Regions from separate parts of the Homo sapiens genome. Here region 1 is linked to region 2. A link means that fine-mapping ties the variant in region 2 to the expression of a gene that starts in the linked region. Tissue or cell type: esophagus muscle. Region 2 holds a variant in brackets; the other region holds the start of a gene. All regions are shown on one strand. Distances are from middle to middle.

Evidence for each region. PIP is the estimated chance that this variant, and not a neighbour inherited with it, causes the effect.
Region 1: LYG2 starts here. The variant in region 2 is the best candidate, but not a certain one, in a credible set for the expression of LYG2 in esophagus muscle (GTEx, PIP 0.58).

Annotation. Positions count from the first base shown.
Region 1 is chr2:99,251,948-99,260,132 of GRCh38, reverse strand. LYG2 (lysozyme g2) reads left to right here and starts at 4,467. Exons shown (of 7, transcript NM_175735.4): 1 at 4,467-4,530; 2 at 4,996-5,113; 3 at 5,848-5,915. The coding sequence starts at 5,873.
Region 2 is chr2:99,190,931-99,199,115 of GRCh38, reverse strand. MRPL30 (mitochondrial ribosomal protein L30) reads right to left here. Exons shown (of 6, transcript NM_145212.4): 4 at 4,219-4,365; 5 at 3,927-4,000; 6 at 1-3,543. The coding sequence ends at 3,411. Among named protein-coding and RNA genes, the nearest start is that of MRPL30, 14 kb to the right of the region's middle. The variant A/G (reference allele first, on the strand shown) is at 3,471.

The DNA.
Region 1 (8,185 bases), 61 kb before region 2:
AAAATTAGCCAGGTGTGGTGGTGGGCACCTGTAATCTCAGCTACTCAGGAGGTTGAGGCAGGAGAATTGCTGGAACCTGGAAGGTGGAAGTTGCAGTGATCCGAGATCATGCCACTGCCCTCCAGCCCAGGCTGACAACAGTGAGTCTCCATCAAAAAAAAAAAAAAAAAAAAGTTTACTTTTGGCACAATGAAAGACATAGTTAGGGGATATCATGAGGCAGTCTTTTTATGGTGATGGGTCAGTTCTGTATCCTGATTATGGTGATGGTTACTTGCATCTACCTGTGGGATAAACGTTCACAGTACTATACGCTTCTGAAATATAAATAAATATTTTTTTTAAAAGAGCGTGTAAAAACAAACTGGGGAAATCCAAATAAGGTCTGTACCTAAGTTTACAGTATTGTATAATACTAATGGTAATGTTCTGGATTTGACATGTACTATAGTTATGTAAGACATTGCCATTGGGGGAAGCTGGGTGAAGGGTACATGAGAACTCTTGGTACTATTTTTGAAGCTTCTTGTGAAATTTAAACTATTTCAAAATGAAAACGTTACTTTAAAATTTTGTTTCAGACTTCTCCCTTCTCCTTTCCAAACCACAGGGAGTCCCTTTTTCAAACAAATATATTCCTAGACATGGTTGAATGATCCAGAGGTGGGCACCTGACCCAGCCCAGGTTCATTGGAATTTTTTCCTGGATTTTTTTTTTAACTTGTGTATTTTTCCATTATATCGTTATACTACAACTGTTAGTCCATTCTTCTGTTGATGAATTTTTTGGAGTGTTTCCAGTTTTGAGCTATTATGAATAAAGCACTGTAAAAATTCTTTTTTTTTCTTTTCTCTTTGCAGAACTTACAATCTGTGAAGATTCTCATACAAGTCTTTTGGGAGACATTTTTTTTTTTTTCATTGCTCTTGGGTAAATAACTAGAAATAAAATTCCTGAGGCATATAGTTATTTACTTTGTTAGAAACTGCTGAACAGTACTACAAAGCAATCATACCATTTTATACTCCAACCAGCAATGTATGAGAGTTCTGTTTTGTTTCATATTCTCACCAATATGTGATATAGCTAGTCTTTGGTTTTAGCCTTTTTAGAGAGTGTGAAATACTGTCTCATTTTGGTTTTATTTTGCATTTCCCTGATGTGTAAAGATGTTTACCAATTTTTCATGAGCTTTATTGGCCATTTGTATATCTTCTTTCCTGAAATGTTGGTCAAATGTTTGACATTGGAAGACCAATAATGCAACCATATAAGTGGCTTCTTCAACAGGGCATACCCTGCATTTTACCTATCATATAGTAGATTAAAACCAAGACAAGAAAAGCACACAGCAGTTAAAGCTTGACATTGATATATCCTGGGGTTAAGTTGAATGTTTTAGTGAAATTTTATGGAAGGGCTCCCCTTCTGCCTTCTTACCAGCCATTGGCGCCAAAGTACCTTTGCCACATATTCTTGGGCAGCTCCCCCATTTTATAGGTTTCAGAGCTGTGAAACAGATGCTTGGGCTGCAGCTGCTTGTGTGGCTGTTTCTGAACTTATCCTTCCTCCACTCCTACCAGGCAGGCTACAGAGTCCTGACAATGAATAGCTCTTGCTTGTCCTGCCAAGTTTTCTTCATGGCTGGAGAGAGACTTCACCTCCTACTTCCTGTCCTATAATTCAGCTGTTTATTTTTCCTGAGTGCATGGATAAACAAACAAATGAATAAATCAACAAGAAGCTAAGCCATCAGGACTTGAGTGCAAACCCATCATGATAGTAACTGGCATCTCTATGAAGCACTGTAGTTTATAACATGTTTTTACATATAAAATTTATTTTTGTCTTCAAAACAAAGTCATGGGGCATTATTATCATCTCCATTTTACAGATGAGGAAAATTAAGGCTCAGGGAGGTTAAATGAGTTGGCTATGGTCATCCTCCTTGGCTGTTGTTCCTGAGAAGGGAAAGCTGTGCCTGGGATTCACAAATAATGACATGGCGGAGACAACCCAGTCTCTATTAGCACAGACTAGTGTTGGGAGGGAGGCAGGTGGGGACGCAGAGGGCGAGGGGACCAAGGGAGCCTGAGGTGCTGGATTCCTTTAACTCCCAAAAGTGCTAACCTAGGGTAGCTCAGGGCACAAGGGCAGGTCTTTGTGTGGTATGAATTGAGAAGTCTTGCCAGGAACTCCTACCAGAATCTACTTCCCTGGCTATACAGAGTACCTCAGTTTTCATAATCATTCCTCTCCTCCTAACTAGGACAGTACTGCTTAAACTTTCCCATTGAAGTTTTCCAATTGCTGAGGCCATTTAGTCGTTAGGGATGATTGGAGTCTCCACCACTGAAGCCAGGAACCCCAAATCTGTTAGGACTCCCCAGAAGCTGCCAGAGAATTGCTGCACTGAAGAGTCTTAGGAGCAGGCAACTGATTTGAGGGGTAGGGGACCAGGCCATAGAGTTTTATTTGTATAGCACAGAAATTGCTTGCATATAGATTGTGTTTTTATTTTGGGGACTGATAGAGATTATGACAGGTGCCAAGTTCCCTTCAAGCCCCTCCTGGAAATAACAGTACAACTTACATGTAGTCATTCTTGGTATCCCTGGGAAGAGATGGAGAATTATTCAGTACATTTCTTCTTAGTGACAAGAAATTTCTAAGGTCATTATACAATAGTACCCACACTTAACCATCCACTGGGTCAGTAGGGTACTGCAGTTAAGAGTTAGGCTTCAGAATGTAACAAACTTAGGTTATGCCCCTTCCTATTATTCTACCAGTCATACCATACAAGGTCAGTGCGTATTAACTACATTATTATTACTGGTGGAGAAAATATAAAGTGACAAAAAACCACTTTGGACTTAGTTAACTTATATTAATTTGCATTTTAGAAATTACAACAGCACCTACAAACATTTGACAGATAGTGGTATAAAAATCTGTGAGTGGTGTTATTTTTCCAGACCACGGACAATGCTTTGTATCCAGATTGATTTGGACCTGTTGCAATGATTGCTCTGCAGAGGCATTTGTCCATCGTGCTGGCACTTCGATACAGTGGAAGAGCATGGATTTTGGAATCTTACAGGCCTAGATTCAAATCCTGGCTCTGTCACATGCTAACTGTGCCATCTTTGACAAGTTACTTAGCTTCTCTGAGTCACAGTTTCCTCATCTCTAAAATAAGGGATAATACCTGCCTCACAGGGCCAGTGGAGGATTGAGTCATATAATATCCATAGGAACCTGACTAATGTTGGGTGTCAAATAAATGTTCAATTGTTCTCTCACAGCTTGAGTGAACAGAACAATCCACATCAGTTTGAAAACAATTTTGGTTGAGTTGCAGAAGCCTGGACATTAAGGACCTCATACCTAGAAGGACTCGTAGCCCCACTAACTGAGAGCAGAAGGATAAGTATTCTTCACATTCAACAGTGCTTTAAATGTTTTATTAACAATGTCTTCTTCCAGTGCATGTAGGGAGAGCCCCAGCCTCCACCTACTCTCTTTTACCTAACTTATCATTCGTAACTTCTTAATCTCCCTTTCTTGAGCTTTCTCATTGCACTTAGCCTGGAAGCCTCAGGTAAGTGGCTCTACTCACCCTGCAGTGAAGTGGGTCACGGGCACAATGTCGCTGGGTCATAGACTATGGGTTTCTAAGGCCTGCCTCAGGGCAGTTAGACTCCTGCAATATCCCTTATTCAAGAGTGGTCCTGACTGCAGTGTTGATGGTGGTGGAGCAGACCCTCCATGGGTCACTTTCCTGAGAGTCAGGTAGGAATCATCCATTGGCTCAGAACAGCCCTGCCACTCTTCCAGGGATGGAAGGCTAGAGGCCATGCCAGAGACGTCTGTTCTACAAGCAGGAAGGCAGGCAGGGCAGAAGTGAATGCCAGTGGACTGTGCAGACCTCAGCTTGGGGAGGGCATGTTCTCCTGGGAGTGGAGGTGGTTTTATTGCCAGGGAGCTGGGAAGTTGCCTGTGGTTTTGTCTTCCTGTTCCCTGTACAGCTGCCTTCCACCTTTCTTCACTCAGTGGATGTGGGGGAGGACTGTGTGCAGTCTGAGAAACTGGACACGCTTGTGGAAGGACCCAGACCAGACTTCTTCCTCCCCTCAGCGCAATGTGCTTTGCCTGTTTCAAGAACGTCCCTTCCATTTCCTGTTCCTGGGGCTGCACAATATGCTTCCTCTCTTCCTTTGGACATAAGCCTGAAGAAAGATACTCTCTTCTTGAAGAAGTTTTCATCCCTGGCTATAATCTTTTTTCCCATATCCTTAGCAAGTATGGGCAAATGAGCACTCACGTTGCTACTCCCTGGTTTTGCATTGATCTCCTAGAGCAGGTGGCCACACTTGCACCTTTTTCTCAGAAGTGGGATTGGAGTAAGGAGCCAAGTTCACCTATCATGATCATGTGACATAGTGGTTTGAGATCATGTGACATACTGGTACGGGGATCATATGACATTGGAATGGGAACAAAAAGCAGGAGACCCAATATTTCAGGTAAATAACCAATCCAAGAATAAAAATTGCTAGTATTTCCTGTTATCCTTTTAAAGTGAATTATCTGTTTCTTATTCGCAAATTTAGAAGCTGTTTGGCACAATTTTAGATATCTAGAAACAATCTATCAAAATATGCCTCCTGAGCAACTTGGGGGTTCATTAGGTTAATTAATTAATAGTGGTTAATAAGCCCTTTGAAATCCTCTTATTAATTGGGTCACCTAAGTCCTAAGTACTATTATAACCAGGCCTAATGAGGTCAATGGTTTAAAGAGAGGGTTTTAAACCATATATAAAGCTCCTCTAATGATCATTGGTACAGGACGAAGGTAAGAAAAGCCAGGTGAGTCTTCATGCTGGTGTTTAAAAGTTTCCTCCACAGCAGTAGAGCCACGCTGATGTCTACTCTGTTGAAGCCAGGTGCGCAGTGATCTACTGACTAATGGATTCTCCAATTGTTAAGCCTATGTTACAGGACAAAGGCCGTCGCTTTGTAAAAGCTTGAAGTGCAGTTTGCTGCTGAGTACAGAAGACCTTTGCAAACAGAGAGGGGAGATTTTCTCTGTAAGGTTGCAAACAAGGTTAGTGCTGGCCTTCTTATGTCTTGTAAAACTTATAAGCTACCATTTGAATGAAACCAAGAATAGAGTTGATTGAGGAAGAAATGGAGCAGAGGAAACCTCTTCTAAGTCACGTTCTCATGCTCCTGTTGGTATTTTGTTTTATTTTGTTTTCCCTACGGAGACCCTGGTATAAGAATGGAAACACCCAGGCATGGTGGCACGCATATGTCGCCCCAGCTACTCAGGAGGCTGAGGTGGGAGGATCGCTTGAGCCCAGGAGTTTGAGGCCATAGTGAGCTATGATTATGCCACTGCACTCCAGCCTGGGTGACAGAGCAAGATCCCATTTCTAAATAAATGAATGAAAGACCAAAACTGATCCTTGAAGCCAGGGGTAGGGTGAATAACTAGAATGAAAAGATCAGTATTTTTTTTTTTAAAAAGAAAGGGAACAAAATTGTGGTGTTACCAAGCTTAGAGGTGGGATGGGAGTGTATATTTAGTTACATATGTAAGATACGCATGACTCATGTCAATATGAAATTGGATTGAAGTGAGATTAGGAGTTTATGCTTAAGAAAGAGAGTGTGCCAACAAACTATGTACTGAGCCTGTGAGAATACTATCTTGAAACAGGGAAATGAGTAGTGAATTGGAAATAACTCTAAACTTTTTAAAATATCAAAGCAAATTTTTCTTTAGGAAATTTTCAGGTTTTAAAATTAACCAGTTTCTATTTCAAATCAGAGCAGGTCCTGGAAGATAAGATTCCCCGCCATGTTATCCTCCGTGGTGTTTTGGGGACTAATTGCCCTCATTGGTAAGTCACTGGCTGAGATTTAGCATTGTTCACAGGGTGTCCACAAAAACCTCCAGCACAATCATGAATCAGAAAGAGCAATGATTACCTGTAATGGAAGAGTGGGCTCTCATTCTGACCAGCTTGGCCATTAATCAACTATTATTTCTATAATTAACAGTGTGTTCTGCTTGCTAAGCAGGTGAAAAACAGGATCTATGGGAATTTCAAATAATCTAATATTTATTGATCTGCTTACTTCCTGTCTGACAATGCACCTATCAGGCTGGATACCTTACCGAGAGGTATATGGAACAGTGCCTTGGAAGCAAAACACATGAAGAGACAATTATCAATGCCAAGCAGTGGATGAGAGTTCAATGTGTATAGGTGGGAAAAAAGCACTAGTCTGGGAAAGGTTTGGGAGGAAGAGCTCACATCCAACTAGAATGCTCAGATGTGAAAGGCTTTTGGGGGGGACATGTCAATTGAAGGATGCTTGGTGATTTAATAAGAAAAAGGAAGAGCCTGCTGGATGGGAAGAAAGATTTCAGTAAAAAAGCAGAGGCAGAAATGAATGAAAAGTCTTTGGGTCAGTGTGGTCTGGACAGACGAGGGGGTTTCTGGGGGGAAGGCTGGAAAGATAGGTTGGTAAGTTGGTAAGGGATCTTGAATAAGAGAATGTGAAAACTCTGACCTAAGCAAAATGAAAAGCCATTATGAGCAATGTTCAAGTTGTCTTTAATTATAGAATGGTGACTGAAAGGAAAGTGTTTCTAAAATGTTTAATTCTAAATTTGGAAAAACAAGGCTACCCGAAAGTAATTTCCAGTTACTTATGGTCAAAACAGGGCAACATAGTTTTAAATTTTTACTCTTTTTAGATTGCCAGGTGAGAGCAGAGTTAAATAGCCAGTAGATTAATTATGAGCTACCATATTAGCTGTGTATAGCTGAAAGGTGACTCTTAATTTAAAAAGGGCTTGTGTGTTTATAAGGCCTACACAGGCAGCGTAGGGTCCATGGTCATATTCCAGTTCCCTTAAAGCAGTGGTTCATAAACATGTGTAAGAGTCAACTGGGAATGCTGGGTAAAAGGCAGCTTCTTTCGCCTTATACTGCAAGATTTTGGTGCAGTAGATCTGGTGTGAAAAGCCCAGTGATAAGCCTTTTTTTTTTTTTTTTTTTTTGAGACAGAGTCTTGCTCTGTCGCCCAGGCTGGAGAGTGCAGTGGTGCGATCTCAGCTCACTGCAAGCTCTGCCTCCTGGGTTCATACCATTCTTCTGCCTCAGCCTCCCAAGTAGCTGGGACTACAGGCGCCCACCATCATGCCCAGCTAATTTTTTTGTATTTTTAGTAGAGACAGGGTTTCACTGTGTTACCCAGGATGGTCTTGATCTCCTGACCTCGTGATCCGTCCGCCTTGGCCTCCCAAAGTGCTGGGATTATAGGTGTGAGCCACCACGCCCGGCCCAGTGATAAGCATTTTTAATAAGCTTCCTGGGTAACTTTGATGCCTGTGGTCTGTGGGCCACACAGTGAGCCTGGCAAAGACTGCCTCCCAGTGAAAGGATACTGAACCTGTCAATATAAGGACACTTGATCCAGATAATTTAAACAATCCCTTTCTGTCTCATTCCTTCATCCATCCAACTATCCATTCTTCCATTCAGCAAATGTTTATTAAATGTCTACTTTGTGCCAAGCATTGTTCCAGGTGCTGAGGAGGATATAGCAGAGAAAAACATCTAGTATCTGACCTAATGAAATTTATCTTCTAGTGAGAGGAACGAACAGTAAGAGAGTGAGAGGAAAAAGGGAAGAGAGAGGGAAAGAGTGAGAGGAAGGGAGGGAGATAAAAACATTTCACCTGTAAAAATTTTTGGGCTGGGCACGGTGGCTCACACCTGTAATCCCTGCACTTTGGGAGGCCGAGGCAGGCGGATCAAGAGGTCAGGAGATTGAGACCATCCTGGCTAACACAGTGATACACCATCTCTACTAAAAATACAAAAAATTAGCCAGGTGTGGTGGCAGGCACCTGTAGTCCCAGCTACTTGGGAGGCTGAGGCAGGAGAATGGCATGAACTTGGGAGGCGGAGCTTGCAGTGAGATAAAAACATTTCACCTGTAAAAATTTTTGGGCTGGGCACGGTGGCTCACACCTGTAATCCCTGCACTTTGGGAGGCCGAGGCAGGCGGATCAAGAGGTCAGGAGATTGAGACCATCCTGGCTAACACAGTGATACACCATCTCTACTAAAAATACAAAAAATTAGCCAGGTGTGGT
Region 2 (8,185 bases):
CTCCGCATGGAAGTTTCTTTGCTTTTCATTTTAAGGTACCTCCCAAAGAAGCAATCTTGTTCATGTCAAAATCTCCCTAAAATGGCCTGTGTAGTTCCAAACTGTCCTTGGTGAAACTGTGCCAGTTAGATAATAGGCATACTAGCTAGCATTCTTATGAGAAAAAAAAAATGAAGAAAATAGGTGTTTGGCCTGAAAGAGGTACAATTTTAGATTGAGGAGACCCTAAGAGAACTGCAGTCGTCCTTAAAGGTAGTGTTTGGGTTGACTTGGTGGCCACGGTCACCACCAGATGTCAGGCAAAACCTCCTGAAAGAAGGCAGGTGACACTAAACAAAGCAATCCTCAAAGACACAAAGTCAAGACCGAGGAACAAACCCTTATAGGGTTTTGAAGTGATGATATGAGGCAAAGGAATGCCAATCTGAAGAAACCTTCTAAACTATACAGCCACTATGATAAGGTCCAGGATTGACTTTTCAGGTTTGGCTGGGGGACTTTAAGGAGGCCTCCATGAGCCCTGCCTCCTGTGGTCACACTTCTGTGTAATTCCTCCCTTCCTTGAGTGTAGGTAGGAACTGCAACTTGTTCTTAATGAATGGAATGCAAAAAAGGTGACACGAGGCACATGATTGCATTTATTTGATTATCTAAGAGTGTAGTGCCCATCTTGCTAGTCTGTCTCCAATGCTGGTTTTGGAAGAAGCAACTTGCCATGAATCCTACAGCCATAAGGAAACAAATTCTGCCAACAACCTGAGAGTGCTTGGGAGCAGATCCCTTCCCTGTCAAAGCTACAATGAGCACCTGGCCAGACACGTTTTTCCAGCACTGAGATCCTAAACAGACTACCCAGCTAAGCCACGCCTAGACTTCCGACCCACAAACATTGTGAGACAATAAGTGTGTGTTGTTTTAAGCAGCTAAGTTTGTGGTAATTTGTTCTGCAGCAATAGAAAGCTAATGCTGCTGGCCTATGCCCATATTTTCACTAAAGACTTTTCTTCTTGTAGACACTTTTATTTCTAAATATTCAACTTAACATTTAGATCCCCTCTTCTAGCTATGGGCTGTTGAGATTAAAATTAGTTACTCAAACTTTCTTACTGTTTGAGTAAAAATTAACCATGGTATTTTCCCCTATTTACACAATATTAATATTAGTACAGTAAGGCCAGGTATGGTGGCTCACACCTGTATTCCCAGCACTTTGGGAGGCTGAGGCAGGAGAATCATTTGAGATTAGAAGCTCCAGATCAGTGTGGACAACATAGCAACACTTGGCTCTACAAAAAATTTTAAAAAATACTAGCCGGGAGCGGTGGCATGTATCTGTAGTCCTAGCTGCTCAGGAGGCTGAGGTGGGAGGATCACTTGAGCCCAAGAGTTGGAGGTAATAGTGAGCTACGATCACACCACTGCCCTCCAGGCTGGGCGACAGAGTGAGACCCTGTCTCTAAAGAAAAAAAAATTAGCACAGTAAAAGAGATGGCGCTAAATTAGCAGAGGCTGCTTTTATTTTCACAGATGTCTTCGACCCCACATAAGCAAGGACACTGTATGTTGTGGCACACAGGTTTCTCTCCAACTAGACGGAGCTCTTAGAAGTTAGTGTCCTTTGGCTCCCCTCCAGGCCTTACACACACTGGATATTCAATAACTATGGAATTAAAACTGCAGTTGCCTTTAAGCTTATTTATTAATGGGATCTGGTTTCACTGTGGGTGGCACTTCCACTTTAACGCAACGATCAAAAACATTAAGATCTACGACAGGATGGATATTGGGACAATAAGCATGACAATGTCATTGTTGCCAAGCCAAATTTTACAAGAGGTGAAGGGAAGCAAAGGGTAACTAGAATGCAGAGGTTCTTCATCATCATCTTCAATCAGCTGTCACAGAATTCCCCACTACTGAACCTCCCTTACAATTCTTACTTCTCCCCACCCCTCCAGGTATCTAAAATAGAAAAGAAAGGAAATAATTCTCCCTGAGAGATTTCCGCCTCCTTCTTCTTTCTTTTCAACAGCAACCTCAACTGTTGACAGAGGTTCCTTAGGATTCAAAGAACAATTCTGAAGCTGAAAACAGAATAGTCTGTTTTTGAATAAATCCTAAAATATTTTCATTTCACACCCTTGTTCCATGAGGAAAAAATTTACATAGAGACAAATAGGTTTTGTTCAGGCAGTGTGCAATAATAAAGTTTAGGCCAAATTAGATTTATAATTAGATATTAAATGCTGGTTTGGTACTAAGTTTAGGGATAAAATGAACCCATATCCACATATGTACTTATAGACACCAAAGCACAGAACAGATAATCTAGCTGGCATCCAGTGTTTCTTGACTTTGGCTGAATCTCTGTTCCCCAGAACAGACTGTAAGCTCCAAAAGGTGGGGACCATGTTTTGGTCAGCTTTGGATTTCTCCAACACCTTGCACAGTGTTCATGCAAAGAGCCACTCACAGAAATTGTTGAATTCACTTAAAAAAGAAAACAATTTTGGCTGGGTACAGTGGCTCATGCCTGTAATCCCAGCATTTTGGGAGGCTGAGGTGGGAGGATGGCTTGAACCCAGGAGTTTGAGACCAGCTTGGACAACATAGTGAGTCCCTGTCTCTATGAAAAAACTTTAAAAAATTAGCTGGATGTGGTGGCACACTGCCTGTAGTCCTAGCTACTCTGGAGGCTGAGGTGGGAGGATCACTTGAGCCTGGGAGGTCGAGGCTGCAGTGAACTGAAATCATGCCACTGTATTCCAGCTTGGGTGACAGAGCAAGACCCTGTCTCAAAAACAACAACAACAATACTAACGCAATTTTTATAAAATGGTTAATGAGGCTTGCTAAGGTGGCAGTAGACCCAAACGCAGATGTTCAAACATTGCCATTCTTACATGTTTTGGAGTGAAACAGTGAAAGGGAAAGGACAGAGAATTAAACCAAATTAAACTAAAATCTCCAAGTCTGTAGTAAAAGAGAGCTGCAGCAGGTTTAGTCAGTGAAAAAAAAATTTTTTTTTTTCCCCTGAGATGGAGTCTCATCCTATCACCCAGGCTGGAGTACAGTGGCACCATCTCAGCTCACTGCAACCTCTGCCTCCCGGGTTCAAGTGATTCTCCTGCTTCAGCCTCCCGAGTAGCTGGGTTACAGGCATGTGCCACCATGCCTGGCTAATTCTGTATTTTCAGTAGAGATGGGGGTTTCTCCATGTTGGTCAGGCTGGTCTCGAACTCTTGACCTCAGGTGATCTGCCCGCCTTGGCCTCCCAAAGTGCTGGGATTACAGGTGAGCCACCGTGCCCGGCCTGAAAATGGTTTTGAAAACATATTTTAATGAAAACACTTTCTCACCATCTTTAAATAAAAACAATTTGCATTTTCCAATCGGAAGCTGCTGGGGCATTAGGACTCATGTGCTTTCTGCTCCACAGGTTTCAGATGCCACTGCACTACTAACTCCCC[A/G]GTGCTTTTGAGGCACGTGTTAGACATGTTCTCCTCTGCTGGAAGTCCTTGTGGCAACTTCAAGGGCTTGATTCTGTGACACAAGAAAATGCGTTTAGATAGGAGGAATACGTTCTAGCGTTCTATATCCCCGCAGGATAACTACAGTTAACAATAACACATAGTTTCAAATAGCTAGGAGGAGGATGTTGAATGTTCCCAACATGAAGAAATGGTAAATGTCTGAGATGATGGATATGCCAATTACCCTGATCGGATCACTATACTTTATATATATTGAAACGTCACTATGTACCCCATAAATATGTACAATTATTATGTGTCAATTAAAAAAAAACAAAATAAAATTTTAGTTTTTTAAAAAGTTTTTTTCAGAACATTAACGAAAAAAGAAAAATGCATTTAGAATTACACTAGGCAATACATTTTAAAAAGAGCTGAGAAGAAACAACAAACCTTATCAAATGCTTAACTACTTTCAATTTTGCATTCACTGAAGGGATATTCTTGTGAACTTGAGGGGTATGTGCCTGTGAACAACAACAACAAAGCAACGTTATCAATCTGAAAAGCAGATAGTTCCATGTTTCAGTAAAATGTTAAATTGAAGGTTCATTCTAAGCCAAATTTATAAATAAATTACCCTAAGTAATACAAAATAAATAATAAATGTATACCGCAAAGTTTTAAAAGTATAAAATTTAAAGCAATGTAAACAACACTAAAGATGATTAAAATAATTGCATACTTTTTCTAATCCAAGCATCTTTATTATATCTTTTTCCCAATATGGACGTCTTCTTGTACTTTTTATTCTGGTAACAATATGCAGTTTATGAGGGTTCTGTGGATCCCCACCGTATTTTTCATGATCTTCAGGTGAGGCCTGAAACACCTAGAAAGGAAAGAATTATAAATGGTAAATTTCCAACTTACACAGTTTCTGTGTACCTCCCATTTTTTCTTAAAAGACACACACACATACACAACTACATAATTACCTCATCCTTAATCATCATGTAATCCTCAACCTCAGATTGAACATTTCTATCAATCTGATTATGCAGATAGATGGAGTTTAACCTGTAGAACAAAGCAGGAGCAACCAGACAACACTAAATAATTTAAATGTCAGGAGAATCTGTAAGCACTGCTATGAGCTGGGCACTGGGCTGCATCCTCTTCCCTCCCTATTCTCAGGTGAAGAGCTGACTATCAAGTGGGAAAACAAACATGTAAATTAAAAATGAAAATAAAACATAAGTATTATAAAAAGAATCTACAAAGTATTATGAGAATACAGGCAAATGACTAATGAACTCTGCCTATGAGCGATCAGAAACAGCTCCACAGAGCTAATACTTGAATTAATTATCTAAGAATCAAAAGGTTCTAAGAAACTATCCCACAGAAACACTCCTCTAAGTATACAAAATATACCGAATAAGGATGTGTATTCTAACACTATGTGTAACACTGAAAAGTTTAAAGGCAACCCGTGTTCCTCACCATGATAACTACATTATGATGCATCCATTCTAAATAAAATGATTAATAATAAAACTAAGTAAAATGATACAAATACACAAATTCTTTTTTTTTTTTTTTGAGATGGAGTCTTGCTCTATCGCCCAGGCTGGAGTGCAATGGCACGATCTTGGCTCACTGCAACCTCTGCCCCCAAGGTTCAAGCGATTCTCTTGCTTCAGCCTCACGAGTAGCTGGGATTACAGGCGCACACCACCGTGCCCAGCTAATTTTTCTATTTTTGGTAGAGATGGGGGTCTCACCATGTTGGCCAGGCTGGTCTCGAACTCCTGACCTTGTGATCCGCCCGCCTTGGCCTCCCAAAGTGCTAGGATTACAGGTGTGAACCACCACGCCTGGCGCAAATACACAAATTCTGATGTATCCTATAGGATACAATACTACCATTAAAATGAATGAGGTTTACTATCTTTGCAGGTCTTCACATTGAATGATGGCCATAATATATTCTTGAGCCAAAAACCAAAAAGAAATGTCCACACAATTATGTGTTGTAAGCTGTTATGTGCATCATCTGTACCAAATACATGAGTGTGCATATGTGATATATTCTATAAATACTGTTTCTAAGACTCATATAAAATATATATAAAGGTCTCAAAGACATTAGATCAAGAGTCATAGCTCTGGGGAAGCAGATTTAGAAAAAAAATTGACCCCCAAAAAGATGGTATTTTAATAAAAAAGAATATCATTCATGATTAAAAACAGTTTTGTAGAAATGTAAACAGTGTAAAAGCGTTCTTATTTCTCCACAGCCTTGCCAGCATCTATTGTTTCTTGACTTTTTAATAATCGTCACTCTGACTGGCATGAGGTAGTATCTCATTGTGGTTTTGATTTGCATTTCTCTAATGATCAGTGATGATGAGCTTTTTTTCATATGTTTCTTGGCCACATAAATATCTTCTTTTGAGAAGTGTCTGTTCATTTCCTTTGCCCACTTTTTGATGGGATTGTTTGTTTTTTTCTTGTAAATTTAAGTTCCTTGTAGATTCTGGATATTAGACCTTTGTCAGATGGGTAGATTGCAAAATTTTTCTCCCATTCTGTAGGTTGCCTGCTCACTCTGATGCGAGTTTCTTTTGCTGTGCAGAAGCTCTTTAGTTTAATTAGATCCCATTTGTCAATTTTGGCTTTTGTTGCAATTGCTTTTGGTGTTTTAGTCATGAAGGCTTTGCCCATGCCTATGTCCTGAATGGTATTGCCTAGGTTTTCTTCTGAGGTTTTTATGGTTTTGCACTATTGGTGGGAATGTAAATTAGTTCAACCATTGTGGAAGACAGTGTGGTGATTCCTCAAGGATCTAGAACCAGAAATACCATTGGACTCAGCAATCCCATTACTGGGTATATACCCAAAGGAATATAAATCATTCTACTATAAAGACACATGCACATGTATGTTTATTGAAGCAGTACTTACAATAGCAAAGACATGGAACCAACCCAAATGCCCATCAATGATAGACTGGATAAAGAAAATGTGGTACATATACACCATGGAATACTATGCAGCCATAAAAAGGAATGATGTCATGTCCTTTGCAGGGACATGGATGAAGCTGGATGCCATCATCCTCAGCAAACTAATACAGGAACAGAAAACCAAATACCGCATGTTCTCACTCATAAGTGGGAGTTGAGCAATGAGAACACACGGGGAGTCGGGGGCAAAGGGAGACCATTAGGACAAACACCTAATGCATGTAGGGCTTAAAACCTAGATGACGGGTTGATAGGTGCAGCAAACCACCATGGCACATATATACCTATGTGACAAATCTGCACGTGTATACCGGAACTTAAAAAAAAATGTATACAGTGAGAGGTTCATATTATATTACTAAACAGAGAGAGCAGCTAGAGAAGCATTGATTCATATGAGATGAATCACATCTTAAAACACACAACACAGATTGAACTCCGTATTCTACTCTTTCCTCCTCATTACTGCACTTGACTAGTCTAAAAGAAAAAAATAAAACATACAACAAAGAAGGATGTGGAAGGAGTTGGCAGCAGTTATCTCGGGGTGGGTAAGATTAAGAGTATTTTTTGGTGAGTTTTGCTTGTTTATATTTTTCTAGAGATTTTGAAGAGATTAGGATGAGAAGGATGGTGGAGATCAGAGGAAGGGGTAGGTGCACTAAAGAAAGGTGAGAATATTTAAAGGAACAGTATGAAGGAGCACAAAATATTTTGGAAAGGCAAGTGGTTCAGGGTGGCTAATATAGAAAAAAGCACGAAAAGTAATGCAGAGGATGAAGTTAAACTATGCGCGACTATGTTGAGCCTTTAGAAATTACCGCTGGGGATACAGAGTTAATGAAGGTTAGAACCAATAGGACCATGTTTCTATGAGATTTGCAAAGAAAACTCTTACCTAAGAATAAAACCAACTGGGGATAGAGACTGATACAAGGAAACCCAGTTAGGAGGCACTTATGACCATGGTTTAAGAGCCTGAACTACAGTAGCTGTAACAGAAAAAGGACTGATATGGGAACTCTGGGCAGTAATATAGATGGATTTGTGTTGGGTGAAGAAGAGGGAGGCTGAGCTTGATTCAGATGTCTTTAGTCTGGGAAATTAGATAGAGGATGGTAGCATTAACTGACATAACTAATACAAGAGACGCACCCTCTTTTTTATTTGGTTGTTTGGAGGGAAAGTAAGATGAGTTGAATTTTGGATATGAACTTGAAATACCTATAAGTTATCCAAGTAGCAATGTCTAGAAACCAGTTGAGAATACAGGAGAATACAGGAATAAGTTCAGACGATAGGCAGGGGCCAGGCGTGGTTGCTCACGCCTGTAATTCCAGCACTTTGGGAGGCCAAGGGGGGTGGATCACGAGGTCAGGAGATCAAGACCATCCTGGCCAGCATGGTGAAACCCTGTCTCTACTAAAAATACAAAAATTAGCTGGGTGTGGTGGCACATGCCTGTAATCCCAGCTACTTGGGAGGCTGAGGCAGGAGAATTGCTTGAACCCGGGAGATGGAGGTTGCAGTGAGCCGAGACCACGCCACCACACTCCAGCCTGGAGACAGAGCGAGACTCCGTCTCCAAAAAAAAAAAAAAAGATAGTCAGGGGCTATTTTCATGAGGTTTAAAGGTTTTCATATTTATCACAGTTGATGATCAAAACCACTGCCTTGCAC